Regions from separate parts of the Homo sapiens genome. Here region 1 is linked to region 2. A link means that fine-mapping ties the variant in region 2 to the expression of a gene that starts in the linked region. Tissue or cell type: blood mononuclear cells. Region 2 holds a variant in brackets; the other region holds the start of a gene. All regions are shown on one strand. Distances are between the middles of the regions.

Evidence for each region. PIP is the estimated chance that this variant, and not a neighbour inherited with it, causes the effect.
Region 1: it holds the start of CAPN2, and the variant in region 2 is fine-mapped to the expression of CAPN2 in blood mononuclear cells (TOPMed, PIP above 0.99). The same link has a PIP of 0.9 or more in T cells, lung, monocytes and whole blood.

Annotation. Positions count from the first base shown.
Region 1 is chr1:223,708,469-223,716,468 of GRCh38, forward strand. CAPN2 (calpain 2) reads left to right here and starts at 4,071. Exons shown (of 21, transcript NM_001748.5): 1 at 4,071-4,409. The coding sequence starts at 4,173. RefSeq lists enhancers at 3,668-3,717, 3,757-4,708 and silencers at 3,818-4,207, 4,418-4,537.
Region 2 is chr1:223,757,914-223,766,173 of GRCh38, forward strand. It overlaps CAPN2 (calpain 2), which reads left to right. Exons shown (of 21, transcript NM_001748.5): 12 at 1,357-1,568; 13 at 3,668-3,704; 14 at 4,273-4,338; 15 at 6,237-6,294. Among named protein-coding and RNA genes, the nearest start is that of CAPN2, 50 kb to the left of the region's middle. The variant T/C (reference allele first, on the strand shown) is at 3,734.

The sequences.
Region 1 (8,000 bases), 50 kb before region 2:
GAAAGAAAGACTATTGCAGGCCAGGCGCAGTGGCTCACACCTGTAATCCTAGCACTTTGGGAGGCCAAAGCAGGTGGATCACCTGAGGTCAGGAGTTCAAGACCAGCCTGGCCAACATGAGGAAACCCCGTCTCTACTAAAAATACAAAAAAATTAGCTGCACATGGCGGCTGGTACCTGTAATCCCAGCTACTCAGGAGGCTGAGGCAGGAGAATCACTTGCACCCGGGAGGCGAAGGTTGCAGTGAGTGGAGATTGCACCACTGCACTCCAGCCTGGGCAACAAGAGTGAAACAAGAAAGAAAGAGCGAAAGAGAGAGAGAGAGAGAAAGAGAGAAGGAGAGAAGGAGAGGAAGGGAAGAAGGGAGGGAGAAAGAAAGAAAAAATAGAGAAAAAGAGAAGGAAGGAAGGAAAAGAAAGAAAAGAGAAGAGAAAAGAAAAAAAAAGAGAGAAAGACAATTCCAATTCAGAGAATCTGCAAGCAGCTCAAAATCAAACAGAAAAAGATTCTTCTTTTCTAGGGTAAAGGAGGAGCAAGTGGAGATAAGCAGACTCTTGGGAGGGGAAGCTGGACAAGTGAGGGGAAATGACCAGTGGGAGCTGACAGGAAAAGGGTCTTGCTGTGTTCAGTCAATTCCCAGGAGAAGCTGGGCAGGGAAGTGACTTGGCAGGGACACTCCACTTTGTTTGTGCTTGTTCAGGCTTGGGGGCAAGCAGCATTCAGGGATCTGTAGGAAAGAGAGAAGTCTGACCAAAGTTTTGTCAAGCAAAGGGGGTAAGCAATGGGTGTCAGAGACAAGAATAGATGGGGGCAGAGGAATAATAGTGACAAAAATACTTGCTTTAAGAAAAGGTAACATCATGGCTCTCATATTAGTATAAAATAAACACATTTTAAAGATTCCATTTCGGCAGGGTGCAGTGGCTCACACCTGTAATCCCAGCACTTTGGGAGGCAGAGGTGGGCAGATCACCTGAGGTCAGGAGTTCGAGACCAGCCTAGCCAACGTGGAGAAACCCTGTCCCTACTAAAAATACAAAATTAGCCAGGCATGGTGGCAGGCACCTGTAATCCCAACTACTCGGGAGGCTGAGATAGGAGAATCACTTGAACCTGGGAGGTGGAGGTTGTGGTGAGCCGAAATTGTGCCATTGCACTCCAGCCTGGGCCAACAAGAGTGAAACTCCATCTCAAAAAAAAAAAAGAGTCCATTTAACTTGATTAAACGAGGCAATCTGGTGGATGTTATAACTGGTTCAAAGGAGAAACCAAAGCAGCACAATTTACATGACGTGAAGAGTACTGAAATGGAATATGCAACTAGACAAAAAACTGGTCTCTCTACAGGGGGACTGTAGTGCCTCTACTGGACAGAATGCATTTGCATATCTATAGGAAAAATTATTTTCCATTGCTACAGTTATCTACAACTTAGATTACTTACTTAGAGTTACTTAGGTAACTATACATTGCTACAGTTATATACAACTTAGAGTTATAAAATAACTCAAAAACAATGAAAGGGGCTCGTGTGGTGGCTCACACCTGTAATCCCAACACTTTGGGAAGCTGAGGCAGGCGGATCACCTGAGGTCAGGAATTCGAGACCAGCCTGGCCAACACGGTGAAACCCCATCTCTACAAAAAATATAGAAAATTAGCCAGATGTGGTGGTGTGCACCTGTAATCCCAGCTACGTTGGAGGCTGAGGCAGGAGAATCGCTGGAACCCGGGAGGCAGAAGATGCAGTTAGCTGAGATCGTCAAGATCCTGTCACTGCACTCCAGCCTGGGTGACAGGGTGCTACATCTCAAGAAAAACAAAAACAACAACAACAACAACAAAAACAATGAAAGGCTAGACCCAGATCTTCTGGAAGGAGATGCTCTAAACCAGGGTTTCTCAGCCTCTACATGACTGATGTCTTGGACTAGATCATGTTTTGGGTGGAGAATGTAAACCAAAAATAAAATTCTAAGCCTCCCCCTCCCCTACCCCCGCCAACCATCTAAATGGATGGTTCCTCCTTAGCCGAGGCTCTTAAAATTTTAACCTGAAATTTTCAGGCCATGAAGGAAAGGCAAGGTCGGACATGCTTCATTATACCTCTCCAGCGTGAACATCAACCAGAGTTTAGGTCTGATAAGAAACATTTTACTGCCTGTTCACTCTGAAGCCTGCTAGCTAAAAGCTTCATCTATGTGATAAAACTTTTGTCTCCACAACCTCTTATCGCAACCCAAACATTCCTTTCTATTGATCCTGGGCCTTTAGACAAACTCAACCAATTGTCAACCAGAAAATGTTTAAATATTTACCTATATCCTGGAAGCCACCCCCACTACCCACCCACCACCCCCCGCCACTTTGAGTTGTCCCGCCTTTCTGAACCAAACCAATGTATTTCTTAAATGTACTTGACTGATGGCTCTTGCCTCCCTAACATGTATAAAACCAAGCTGCACCCCAACCACCTCGGGCACATGTCCTCAGGACTTCCTGTGTCACAGGTGTGCATCTTCAACCATGGCAAAAGAAACTTTCTAAATTAAATGAGACCTGTTTCAGATTTTCTGGGTTCACAAGAGCTATCTTGGACATTGGAAGATGTTCAGCGGCATCCCTGGCTTCTACTTAGTAAAGGCCAGTAGCACCTCATCTCCTAGCTGTGACCATAAAAACTATCTCCAGACATTCCCAAATGTCTCCTGGGGTGGGTAGGGGACAAAACTGCCCCCAGTTGAGAACCACTGCTGTAGACCATGCACAGTTTTCCAGTGAAACCCAAATTCTTCCCTACTACTGTAGAGAAGAAGAGGAGGTAATTTCTGCCCATCTGCATTTCTTGGCACGCACCCATGTCTCTGTGTGTGAGATGAGAATCACACCCTAGCTCCACAACAGAGTGGTCACAGTAGCCAACACAGGCAGTATTCTAAATGCTCTCTCCCTATAGTAACCCAACTAATCCTGCCAGTTAAATATGAGTTTCAGGTAAACAATGAATCATATTTTCTTTTAGAATAAGTATGTATGCCCATGCAATATTTGGGCCCTACATATACTTTAAAAGTATCTGTTGTTTATCTGAAATTCAAATTAAACATTTGGGAGGGTTGTTGTTTTATTGGCCAAATCATTTTATTTTATTTTATTTTTGATATGGAGTTTCGCTTTGTCACCCAGGCTGGAGCGCAGTGGCGCGATCTCGTCTCACTGCAACTTCTCCCTCCTGGGTTCAAGCGTTTCTCCTGTCTCAGCCTCCCGAGTAACTGAGATCACAGGTGCCTGCCACGACGTATTTTTAGTAGAGACGGAATTTCACCATGTTGACCAGGCTGGTCTCGAACTCCTGACCCCAGGTGATCCGCCTGCCTCCGGCCTCCCAAAGTGTTGGGATTACAGGTGTGAACTACCGCACCCAGCCTTATTGGCCAAATCTGACAACCCTATCTATAATCAAATAAACAGCTGAGCAGTAGTAATTGCAGCATTGTGATTGCAATAGGCCTCCGGTGGCTTAGAGTCCCTGTTCTGCCTGTGACTGTTGTGCCACATTGGGGACGTCATTTAGCGTCTCCGAGGCTCAGTTTTCTCATCTGTAAAATGGGGACAATATCAGCGCCTTCTTCAGAGTCGCTGGGAGGATTAAATGAGATGATGTATGCAGAGCCGTTAAGACGCTGTTTGGCACAAAGTTCAGGGCAGCTGGTTTAGTTTCCTCGACTTCACTACCTGACCCTCTGCTAACTCCCCGGGTGTTTTCCGGACGGCCACAACTATCCTAGCCTTCTTCCCTATGGGCTGCAAAGGTGGCCTCGGGTTCCGGTGGGAGCCCCAACTCTGGACCGCGATTCGCGAGCCTCCCCGGCGCCGGGCCGCGCCATCCCGGGAGCTGTCCGCAGATGGCAGCACCGGCCCCGGGTCGCGGCGTTCCCGGCGCTCGGCAGGCCGCAGGATGGCCTGGTCCCGGGCCGGGAGCCCAGCAGGCCGGGAGCGGCTGAGGCCACACCCCGCGGGCCGGGCCGCTTCCCTCCGGTGAATCATCGCTCGCAGCGGCGGCGCCCGCAGTGGCCGCAGCAGCGCGCCGGGCCCTGGCCGCGCCCCAGCCGAGCGCAGCGCGGAGTCGCCCCGACCTTTCTCTGCGCAGTACGGCCGCCGGGACCGCAGCATGGCGGGCATCGCGGCCAAGCTGGCGAAGGACCGGGAGGCGGCCGAGGGGCTGGGCTCCCACGACAGGGCCATCAAGTACCTCAACCAGGACTACGAGGCGCTGCGGAACGAGTGCCTGGAGGCCGGGACGCTCTTCCAGGACCCGTCCTTCCCGGCCATCCCCTCGGCCCTGGGCTTCAAGGAGTTGGGGCCCTACTCCAGCAAAACCCGGGGCATCGAGTGGAAGCGCCCCACGGTAGGAAGCGCGCGGCAGGACGCGGGCAGGGCGGGGTGCCGGGCAGGGCGGGGTGCAGGCCGGCCCGCGGCGCGCTGGGGCGGGGGGCAGCCCGGGTGCTGCAGTGGGGAAGCCGCAAGCCAGGACCTCGCAGTCCTGCGACACCTCCGCGCCGCCAGAGCCCGGGACTCTGTTCGAGCGTGGGGGGACTCCCGGGGCCTTCCCTCTCTTCCACCCACCACGCTTTCCTGGGCGGGTCGAGGCGAATCACTGCCCTCAGATCCCACTAGCAGGCCACTTTAGGACTTCACAAAAACTCAGGGTGATGCAGGAGGCCGGGGTGAAACTTTGATTGGACTCTAGCGGGGAGCTGGAAGGGAAGGGGAATCGGGTCTGCAGGGAAGGGACGGTGAGAGGCAGCATCTACCAGACAAAGTCCGTCTCCAACTGGGGTTCTGTCTGTTCATGGAGGGGGACAGGCCATAGCCTGGTCATTTTGTGACTAAGGATAGTCTCCTGCAGCCCTGGGGTTAGATTTATTTTTCCAAAGGGGAGCCAGCGATACCTCCTCATAACATTGACACTGGTAATTAACCCAGGACACGGAGGTGTCTCATGGTTTCCCTGGCGGGAATCACCCGGGAAACCTCCGGGAGCCCTCCAGACCCCCTTATCCCGTCCCCCAGGGTCTCTGACCTCCCGGCCCTGGGACAACTTGTGCTCCCCAATCTACTTGTCCATTCTGTTTCTTGGGGAACCCCTGAGGCTCCTCCTCCTTTGGGACACTTCCCCAGGCTTCCCCTACCACGCCTAGGAAAGCCTGCCCTGAAGTCCAACTTCTAGATTCCTGTTGTGAGAACAAGGCTTCCAGCTCTGCTTCCACACCCAGCAGCCTCCCAGGTCACCTTCTGTTACCCTAAATCCAGCCCATAGGTAGCAAGGGCTGCAGGAAGCGCCCTAGCCCAGACTCAGAGCACTTGGGTTCTTCTTCTTGCTAACCTGCTGGTGACCTTGAACGAGCCATTTAACCTCTCTGTGCCTCCATGTCTTCATCTAAAAGAAAACATGCTGCCTAAATATTTTCTCTCTTTTGTGGCCCACTAGGCCCTGCCGTCATGGCCTCCTTTCAGTCTCTCAAAGAGCCGGTTCTTTCCTGCATGAGGCCTTCTCACCAGCAAGGCACGCTGTTACCTGGAGTGTGGCTCACTCTCATTCTTCCCAACTTAGTCACATGTTCCCTTCCTAAAGAGGTCTTTTCTGACCCTTCTTAGCAGCCACCTCCCCACCTTGTTTTTCTCTGTCACCCCACTCATTTCCTTCATAGCATTGTCACAGTTTAGAATATAATCACATGTATTTGTTCTTCCTACTGAACTGCAGGAATCATGTGTATATTATTTACCAGTATATCCCCAGTGCCTGACACATAACCATGCCTTTCACAGTATTCATTCATTCATTCATTCATTCATTTACTCACTCATTTGACAACACTGATTGAGCACCTGTTACATGCCAGGCACTGTCCTGAGAGCTCAGGAGATACACCAGTGAACACAAAAGAAGTGACTGTTTGTAGAATATGGATGCAGGATTGTAATGTGCCTCAAATGAAATTATGGTTGTGAAAGTGATACGCTGACCTGACTCAGTGCCTCACACCTGTAATCCCAGCACTATGGGAGGCCAAGGTGGGAGGATCGCTTGAGCCAGGAGTTCAAGACCAGCCTGGGCAACACAGTAAGACTTGTCTCTATAAAAAAGTAAAAAAAAAAAAAAAAAAAGTGAAACACAAACCAAGAGAATGTGTTCACTTTACATTTGCATGGCACTTTACAGTTTACATAGTGAGTTCACATACTCATTCACTTATTCTTTCATTCATTCAGTAAGCATTTCTCGAATACCTACTATATGCTGGGCACAATGCATATGGTTTCTGCTTCTGAAGACTTACTTCTGAGGCTAGTGAGGGGACAGAGACAGGTCCCCCAACAGTTGGAAATGCCTGTGGGACTTCCAGATGAGGATGTAGAGGTCTAGAGATGATCTAGCGCCACTGCTTAGGGCAGGCGGGCTGTGCACTGCACAACTAAGGAAGAGTGTGACTTTTACGATCCCCATTTGCCAGTTGAAGAAATTGAGGCTTGGGAAGGTTAAATACTTGCTCAGAGTCAAGTGGATATAGGGCATAGATCCAGGACTGTGTGTAGTCTGTGCATGTTGAGCCTACCCCTTATGGCTGCGCTCTCTGCCTCCTTCCTACCTTCTCAAATGCTGCTGAGGTCAGGCAAGGGGAGCACAGTTGTTTCCGCTGGATTTGAACACTAGCAAGTCATTGGTGAGTTTAGCAGAGCAATTTCAATGGAAAGGTGAGAGTAGAAGCCAGATTGTTGTAGACTCCAGAGTAAAGGAACTGGAAATTAAGAACATGATCAACTTATTTAAGAAGGACCCCCGGGAAGAGAGGAGAACTGATAGGTAGAGTAGGACCTGGACTTTGAGAGCCTGTGTTTTTTTCATATGAGAACAACTTGAATGTGTCATATGTTGAATCACCAGGAAGAAGGGATTAAAGATAAAGGCAGGGAGGGGGCAGTGAAACAGGATCCCTGAGGAAGTGAGAATACGGGTTGTGGGCAGGGGAGGGGAGCAGGTTAGCCTTGCAGCAGGAGGAGCTGCTCTTCCTCGGAGAGAGGATTTCACAACACTGGCAAGAGTGGCTCCAGTGCCTGGAGCGGGGATTAAAGCAGTAAGTCCAGTGGGGTCCAAGGGCCATGCAGGGGTACAGTGAGGAGAAAGCAGGTGTGATCCGGGTGGCACATCAGATCCTTCCAGCAACCAGTCTGTTAGGAGCAAGGGCAGATGTTGTGAGCCCCTATGTTTCCCCCAAGAAAATCAAACCTCTGAGAGGTTTCTCACTTGCTTATCTTCAGCTGGCCGAACTCAGCCTCAAACCCATATGTCCTGTCTCCAAGTTCAGTGACTGTTATCATCAACTTCTTCAACAGTAATAATAATAGATCACATTTATGGAGTGCTTGCCAGGGCATGTTTACATCATTATCTCATTTAACACTCAGAACAATCCTCTGTGGTGGGTGTTTTCATCGTTCCCATTTTGCAGGTGAAAAAACTGAGACTTCAAAAGGTTAAGTGACTTCCCAGGGTCCTACGACCTACATAATAAGTGGCAGAGCCAGGATTCAAACCTAGGTTATCAGAATAATGCAGCAAAGCCCAAACCCTCAGCCCCTTTTCACTGACTGGTAAGACCCATATTTAATTCGATGCCCTACATGCCGTGCACAAGTTTCAGTTTTCTGAAGCATCGCTTAGATGCTTAGGTGTTTAGCACCACTCTGAACTCTGACTTTTCTAGAGAGGCTGCTAAAGGCATTAGAAAGTTTCTGAAGTATAATGGAAAAACCCTGCTGGAGTAAGTGCCTGGCACACTCAGGATTATCAGTGTGATTCTTTATAATAAACAGGCTCCCAGCACCAAGCCCAATCTATTCCATCAGCTGGATAAGAGCTCTCTGGCAGGCCTTGGGCCAAGCTGGCTTCCTTTGCCTCAGCAGAAGAGCATTCTGATTCTCTCTGCCATCCCCA
Region 2 (8,260 bases):
GCAGTGGCATGATCTCGACTCACTGCAACCTCTACCTCCTGGGTTCAAGTGATTCTCCTGCTTCAGCCTCCCCAGTAGCTGGGACTACAGGCACGCACCAGGATGCCAGGCCAATTTTTGTATTTTTAGTAGAGACGGGGTTTCACCATGGTGGCCAGGCTGGTCTTGAACTCCTGACCTCAGGTGATCCACCCCCTTCAGCCTCCCAAAGTGCTAGGATTACAGGTGTAGCCACCGTGCCTGGCTGCATTTCAGTTTATTTTTCAGTAAAACTGGTCAACCATCCACCTCACTGCACTACCGTGGAATGACTTAAATTTTGCGAGAGCATTTGGGCCCACAGTCACCGCTTGCTGAAGCAGATGGGATGCCTGGTCCAAGGTCACGATTATTAAAGTAGACACACGGGGCACTTTGACCCACCTGTAGTACATTTCTTTCACAGCAAGGCAGTGCAACCGGTAGCACATCGGGCTCTTTTAGATGCTGCTCCAGCCTTGGTCCGGTGGATCATGCTTGGTTTAGAAGCTGGGTTGTCTTTCTCCTGCCCCCAGTCCTGTCTTTGCTTTTATAGTGCATCATACACCACGTAGAACCGAGCCAGGTTCCTGCCATGTGGACGCTGTTCCTGCCTGAGAGTCTCTTAGAGGAAGGCTGGGAACACTGTGGAAAGACTGGGCATCTCTGCAGGCGGAGCTGAATGGATGTGAAACCCCTGTGGGCATGTGCTTCCGAGTTCCTCAGCAGGCATTTGTGTTTTTTGGTAGAAAGTTTGCTTTTTGTTTTTTTTTTTTTTAAGACAAGGTCTCATTCTGTCACCCAGGCTAGAGTACAGTGGTGTGATCATAGCTCACTGCCGTCCTTGAACTCTCAGACTCACGTGAGCCTCCTACCTCAGCCTCCTGAGTAGCTGAGACTACAGGCGCTTGCCGCCACCCCTGGCTAATATTTTTATTTTTTGCAGAGACAGGGGTCTCACTACATTGCCCAGGCTGGTCTCAAACTCCTGGCCTCGAGCAATCCTCTCACAGCCTCCCAAAGTGCTGGTATTACAGGCGTGAGCCACCACACCTAACAAAAGTTTGCTTTTTATCTAAAATGACCCAGGCATTGTCACTGTACTGCTATTTTTTTAAAAAAATTTTGTTGTTTTGTTGTTGTTGTCGTCGTTATATAGATGAGGGCTTCCTGTGTTGCCCAGGCTGGTTTCTGACGCCTGGCCTCGCCTCCTTATACACCAGGACAGCAGGACTGAGCCACCACACTACCCAACTGCTTTTATCTCAGTGAATGAAAATGATACTTGCCTGGAGGCTTCCCCTCATCTACCCCCATGTTTCTCTATTTATTCCTCAGTTAAGTGGGCAGACCAACATCCACCTCAGCAAAAACTTCTTCCTGACGAATCGCGCCAGGGAGCGCTCAGACACCTTCATCAACCTCCGGGAGGTGCTCAACCGCTTCAAGCTGCCGCCAGGAGAGTACATTCTCGTGCCTTCCACCTTCGAACCCAACAAGGATGGGGATTTCTGCATCCGGGTCTTTTCTGAAAAGAAAGCTGACTACCAGTAGGCGGTTTGGTCCCTTCCTCTCCCCACCCTTCCCTGTCCCTCCCCACTGGTCTGTTCCTCGGCCCCTAGAGGGCTCTTTCATCCTCTGAATGTCAGTTACTTTTTCTGTAACACCTGCCCACCTCGAAGGACTAGTGTGGGGATTTGATGGATTGAGGAAGTTCTAGTGTTATAGTAAGGTAAACAATGGAAAAAGCCACTGTGGATATTTTTGGTTGGAAAGGGGTGGCTGTACAGTGAATTGCAGGGTCTAATTTCATAAGCGTGTCTCTGAATTCTCAAGTTGGTACTTTAATGTTAAACTACGAATCCAGTCTCGTCATTTGAAGAAAGCTGAGCAGTGCTGGTGTAATCCTTGATTTTCCAGGCCACCTGGCCTAGCAGAGCCACCAAGGGTGTAAGGTGGGAACCATCTCAACGGTTCCCACCTCCAGAACCTCTCCCTATTATAGTTGTCATGTCACCAGCTCTCTCTCCCCTTCCTCATGGGATCCCACGTTTGGGAACCCTTTGTGGCTGACATCACCATTTCCTGCCACTGTCCAGGTGGCCTCAATTCACAATGGCTTCTGCCACTTTGACTTCTGCCTCAACCATGTATGTTCAGCTGGGCACTTGATTGGCAAAGGCAGAATCTACCCTGGGTGATTTAAGCTAAAGGGAATTCATCGAAAGGCCATTGGAGACTCCAGAACTGATGGGAGGTAGGGGGTCAGGCTAGGAAGAACAGGAGCCAAGGATGTGTTGGAGGACCAGGGTGTGAGATGACCCCTTGGACTCTGGGTCATGTGCTGAGGTCTAAAGATCTTGTGGAGTGTGTCTGAGGTGCTGGGCTTGGGTCAGCCACCTGGCCTGCTGGTTCCTGTAGAGGAAGAGCCAATGGGAGGTAGAGGCAGGGAACTGCCCTTGCCCCAAGATAATGCATGATGCAGAAATAATTTCCCATGGCGAAGGGAGACAAAGCAATGCCAGGCAGCTGCATACCAATGAATGCCACCATAGCACGGCTGTAGCCCCCCTGCCACTGACAGGCTGTCTTCATTTGCTAAAGCCTACCATGGGGGAAGGGACCTTTCCTCTCAGCTCTGAGGATGCTTAGAGGAAGACTGGTGTGTTCAGTTTAGTCCTCACTGACAAGAAAATAGGAGCATGACCTGGTGGCATTAGAATAACAGTGTCCTTTGTCAAACTCATTACTCTCCCTGCCAGCCACAAGTCACTCTCCCAGGGAAGCCTCAACCCCTCAACTCTCTCTAGGGTGAGCTCCCTACCCCAAGAGGACACCCCACCTCTCAAAGGTTTCTGACTTCCTTGTCCCAAAATATTAATCCTTCTGCTCCAGATTCCAATGATCAGCACCAAGAGGTCCCCTTTTCCTTCTGCCAGGCATTGGCCCTGCTGATAGGACTCTTGGTCACTTAGTTAAAATCACAGTGGCCCAAGGAAGAACCTCCTGAGCTTGATTACCCTCACTATGGAGCAGAAGGACCTGGCCCTGGACACAGGGGCGGTGCACAGTATAAACTAACCACTGCCTGACCTGAGCTTTGGCTGAAATGACACACAGGCCTCTGCACTGCCCACCTCTCCAACCTGAGGCAGAACAAGTAGGCGATGATTTGCACTGCATGATTCTCAGTGTGAAAGTCTATGTTGGCAAAGGATATTTCAAGTGGAACTTAGAAGCTATTCCTTAAGGCTAGGACGAACACCACGCTACACGCGAAGGCTATCCTATTTGATAAAGATCAAAAACTAGCAAACAAAAATCTCCAGCTGCCCACGTTGCTTTGGTCATGACCCTTCCTTCAGATCACTTCTGCCTTTATTTTTGCTGTTTAGGGGATGTGTTATCACAGAAACTTGGAATGCAGAGAAATGTTATCACAGAAACTTGGAATGCAGAAAAATTTTTGCTTTTTAGGGGAGGTGTTATCACAGAAACTTGGAATACAAAGACCTCCCCCCACCGCAGCCCTGCCCCACCCCACCTACCCCCTGCTGGATTTAGCACTGCACTTCCATTTTAGCAGTGATTTCCTTCCTTTTTGCCCTCGCCTGCCTTCCAGTAACACATAATTTCCTTCTATTTCCAGAGCTGTCGATGATGAAATCGAGGCCAATCTTGAAGAGGTATTTGTAACTCTTTGAATTTCACCCAC[T/C]CTGTCCTGGACAATCCAGAGAGCAGAGGAGCAAAAAAACTCCAAGAGTTTTTGGACTTCACGAACAAAGCCTGAAACTAAGGATAAAGCCGGGTACTGGGAATCCAAGAGTCGACTACCTGCATCAGCTCTGGCCTCTGTGCTGGGGGCATGGGCCAGTCCCTTGCCTATTGGGCTGTGCTAGCCACTGTCAAAATCCATCCACAACATTCCAGCTAGTCTTTATTCTTCTGAGTCCCCACTAGAATAGATCCTAAAAGGCCATTTTAATTGGATGCTAGAGAAGATACCTCTGTGAGAAATTAGAATATTACTCCTTCCCACATAATTTACATTCCTTCTTGTGTTTTAATTAGAAAAAAAAAACCTTATATTAATTCTTCACACTATACCTGATCTTAACCCAAATCACCGTAGAATTTGGGCCCCAGGGAGGGGTAGAGAAGGGGAGTGGGAGGTGGCTGCCATGGAAGGGCGGGCAGACACTTGGTGTCATGCCTCGCTCTGATGCATTCTCATGTCTCTGCCTCACCTTCCAGTTCGACATCAGCGAGGATGACATTGATGATGGATTCAGGAGACTGTTTGCCCAGTTGGCAGGAGAGGTAAATGTTCCCAAAAACGATGTTATGCACTCTGGTTGATGCAAAGGAAGAGACAGTGTGTGTCCCCAAGGGGACTTTAGTTTAAAGGGGAGAGGAAACAAACTGAACAAAAGCAAAGAGAAATTGCAAATGGCACTTGGGTTCCAGCTCAGCCCTCTTGCGTGTGTCCTCCCTAAGACCTCCGCATGCTGCCGGGGGCTTCCATTTGCATGGTCAGCCCTGACTCTGTGTTCCTCCTTCCTTAGGATTCCTGGGCTCACCTTGTGACTGTTTTATTTTCTCTGTTCTACACCAATTGAGGCATGAAACTTGGCCCCTTATCCTTGATTTCCACAAAGGATTTGGAGAGATGGAAGGGTTTCAAGTCTCAAGAATGCAGGCCACCTGCAACAGAGTGTTTGAATTAGGCTTTTCTGTTCTCTTTTCTTTTTTCTTTTTTTCTTTTTAGAGACAGGGTCTCTCTCTGTCACCCAGGCTGGAGTGCAGTGGCATGATCATAGCTCACTGCAGCCTCCACTTCCTGGGCTCAAGAGATCTTGCCACCTTAGTCTCCCAAGTAGCTGGGACTATAGGTGCACACCACCATGTCTAGCTAATTTTTATTTTATTTTTATTTTTGTAGAGATGGAGTTTTGCCATGTTGCCCAGGCTGCTCTGGAACTCCTGGGCTCAACAATCCTCCAACCTTGGTCTGCCAAAGTGTTGGGATTACAGATGCATACCACCATGCCCAGCTAATTTTTAAATTTTTTTTAGAGACAGGGTCTCACTTTGTTGTCCAGGCTGGTCTTAAACCCCTGAGCTCAAGCAGTCCTCCCACCTCAGCCTCCCAAAGTGCTGGAATTACGGGTGTGAGCCACCATACCTGGCCACTTCCCTGTTCTTAAAAAAATCCCTCAGCCATTTAGTCCCATCACAAAGTTATTTAGCCCTCTTTCTTCCCAACAACTCCAAAAAAAAAAAAAAAGTCCTCTTTCTTCACTATGTGGAGGAACTTTCCAATCATTGAGCTCATCTGGTACTCCCTTCGCTGACCTAAAGACCCATCAAAGTACTAAGCCAGGCATCGTCTGCTCTGCGCCTCCACCGGCCTCTCACCCTCTGCTCCCTCCCAGATTCCCAAGGAAAGGGGCCATGAGAGTCTTCTTTCCCCTCTGATTGAATCCCACACATACACACCCCAAAAGGCAAACATGACTGCAATCAATCTTGGTTTTAAACAAAGGAGTTTATCCATGAGTTACACAAATATGTGTAAGTGGATAGAGACATCTGAGCCCATGAGGGGCCCTGGCATGATGGGCATAGAGGAGGGCCGGCTAGGTCTTGGAGACAGCTGGTTTTCACCAGTTTTACAGGAAGTCTGAGCTTTGAGTTTTAAAGAATGAAGAAAACATGCCAGATAAGAGGAATGGTATAAGAGAATTAAGAAAGACCACAAACATGGGTAGAGGGGAGTATTTATTATTTATATTCTCTACAGCAAAGAAATGGTGAGTGAACTCTCCCTACTGCATCCGTACATTAAAACACCGTATCTAGGCTGGGCACAGTGGCTCACACCTGTAATCCCAGCACTTTGGGAGGCTGAGGCTGGAGGATCGTTTGAGCCTAGGAGTTTGAGGTTTCAGTGAGCTAGGATCATTCCACTGCAGTCCAGCCCAGCCTGGGTGTTCTAAAAAGAACCAAACCAAAAACACTGTATCTAAAATCCAGAATGGGGCAGTACTACTCAAAGTGTGGTCTGGGGACAGCAGCCCCAACATGGCTCGGGGGCTTGTTAGAAATGCACATTCATAGGCCCCACCGCAGGCCTACCTAATGCACTGGTGTCCTGCCCTGTGCTCATCCAGCTCCCACGGGGGGCCAATAACTATGCTCTGGTTATGTGTCCACAGGATGCGGAGATCTCTGCCTTTGAGCTGCAGACCATCCTGAGAAGGGTTCTAGCAAAGCGTGAGTATCCCCTCATTGCAAAACCTCATCCTGCTCTTTCCCCTGTGGATGGGAGGGAACATGGAAATCTTTCCCCCTCCATGTCTGGCTGCTGTGACTAAACCACCACCCTCCATCCCCTCCAAGAAGTGGATGAAGGATTTGTATGATGTGATGAAAAAGAACAAGTGTTTGTAGCATCCACAGATCAAAGATCAAATCCAGGTTTCCACTACATACTAGCTTTGTGTGATCTATTTTTTTAATTTATTTTATTTTATTTTTGAGACAGAGTCTCACTCTGTCGCCCAGGCTGGAGTAAAGTGGCACAATCTCAGCTCACTGCAATCTCTACCTCCCAAATTCAAGCGATTCTCCTGCCTCAGCCTCCCAAGTAGCTGGAATCACAGGCAAGTGCCACCACAGCCAGCTGACTTTTGTATTTTTAGTAAAGACAGGGTTTCACCATATTGGCCAGGCTGGTCTTGAACTCCTGACCTCAAGTGATCCACCTGCCTTGGCCTCCCAAAATGCTGGGATTACAGGCATGCACTACCACATCCAGCTAATTTTTGTATTTTCCTAGAGATGGGGTTTCTCCATGTTGGCCAGGCTGGTCTTGAACCCCTGGCCTCAAGTGATCTGCCCACCTCGGCCTCCCAAAGTGCTGGGATTACAGGTGTGAGCCACCGTGCCCGGCCACATCTTGTAACTAACTATTTCTTAAGCAAAAAAATGTCAGAGGATTGATTGTTCAACCCCTTACTGTGGATCACCAGCAGGGAGGAGCGGGAAACACAACACAGAGACATTTTTTCCCCTCAAATTATCAAAAGAATCACGCTGCATTTGTTAAGAGAGCAACTGGCAATCCAGGAAGCAGAGTTTTGAACATATCAGAAGTTAGGAATCTGCATCAGAGACAAATGCAGTCATGGTTGTTTGCTGCATACCAGCCCTAGGGATCATCTCGAGAAGCCTCATGGACTTCAAGGGACATCATTCCCTCTGACAAGATGGCCTCTAGCCTAACTCCATGAGATAAAATAAATCTGCCTTTCAGAGCCAAAGAAGAGTCCAGGGCCAGCTGGGTCTTCCCTCCCAGTGTGAACCAAGAGGGCTGGGCCAGTCAGGTTACGGTCAGTCCAGTGCAGGGCCTCCCCAGAGGAGACCCAGTCTGCACCCGCCCTCCTCTAATTTTCAGGGAAGGCAAGAAGATTGTGTTTACCCTGGAGGCCACCAGGCACAAGTGAGGTCACAGAGCTCTTCAGATATGCAGTCCTCATGAGCTGAGGAGACTAAAGCCTCATTGTTTCTGCACAGATGGAGGGTGGGGCTGGGAGGTGGGGAAGAAGCGGGCCTTGCCTGGATTCAGCCCGCTCCTTGCTGGGGGAGCAGCATTCGCTCCGCGCGTGCCTCTGAGCTTACTACCCTACCCCTAGCTGCCTGCTGACTCCAGCCTTCTGGAGGGCTCCACACCAGAGTCTGCATGCACAGCTGCTGGGCCAGAGCCTTATGACCATCTAAGGGGTTGGTGCCCAGAGTGGCAGCTTTGAGGCAGGTCAGGCTCTAACCTCTTTCGGGGACATAACAAAAAGGCTGGGCTTTTCGTGAAGTCTGTGGGGAGCCAGGTTCACATTGGTGACTAGGGAGGGTCTCATGCCACCTGCCAAACACCAAGTGGACAGGACTCACTTAGTGCAGCACAAATAGCTCGTGGATCGATCCCAGTTCCTCAGGTTTCTCAGTCAGCTGGGGACACAGTCCATAAATGTCTGCAGATGGACAGTTCAAGTAAACCTCTTTCTCTCACGGGTCATAGCCTAGAATTAACACACCTGCTCTCTGTTTTCTTTTTCCCTGCCCAACAACTACAGGTGACTTTATATCCTGTGGGCACCTAAGGCCCAACCATTGATCATTCTGTTATTTATTTGTTCAAAAAGCACTTTTTAAAGCCCTGTTTGCCCACGGCAAATATACAGAG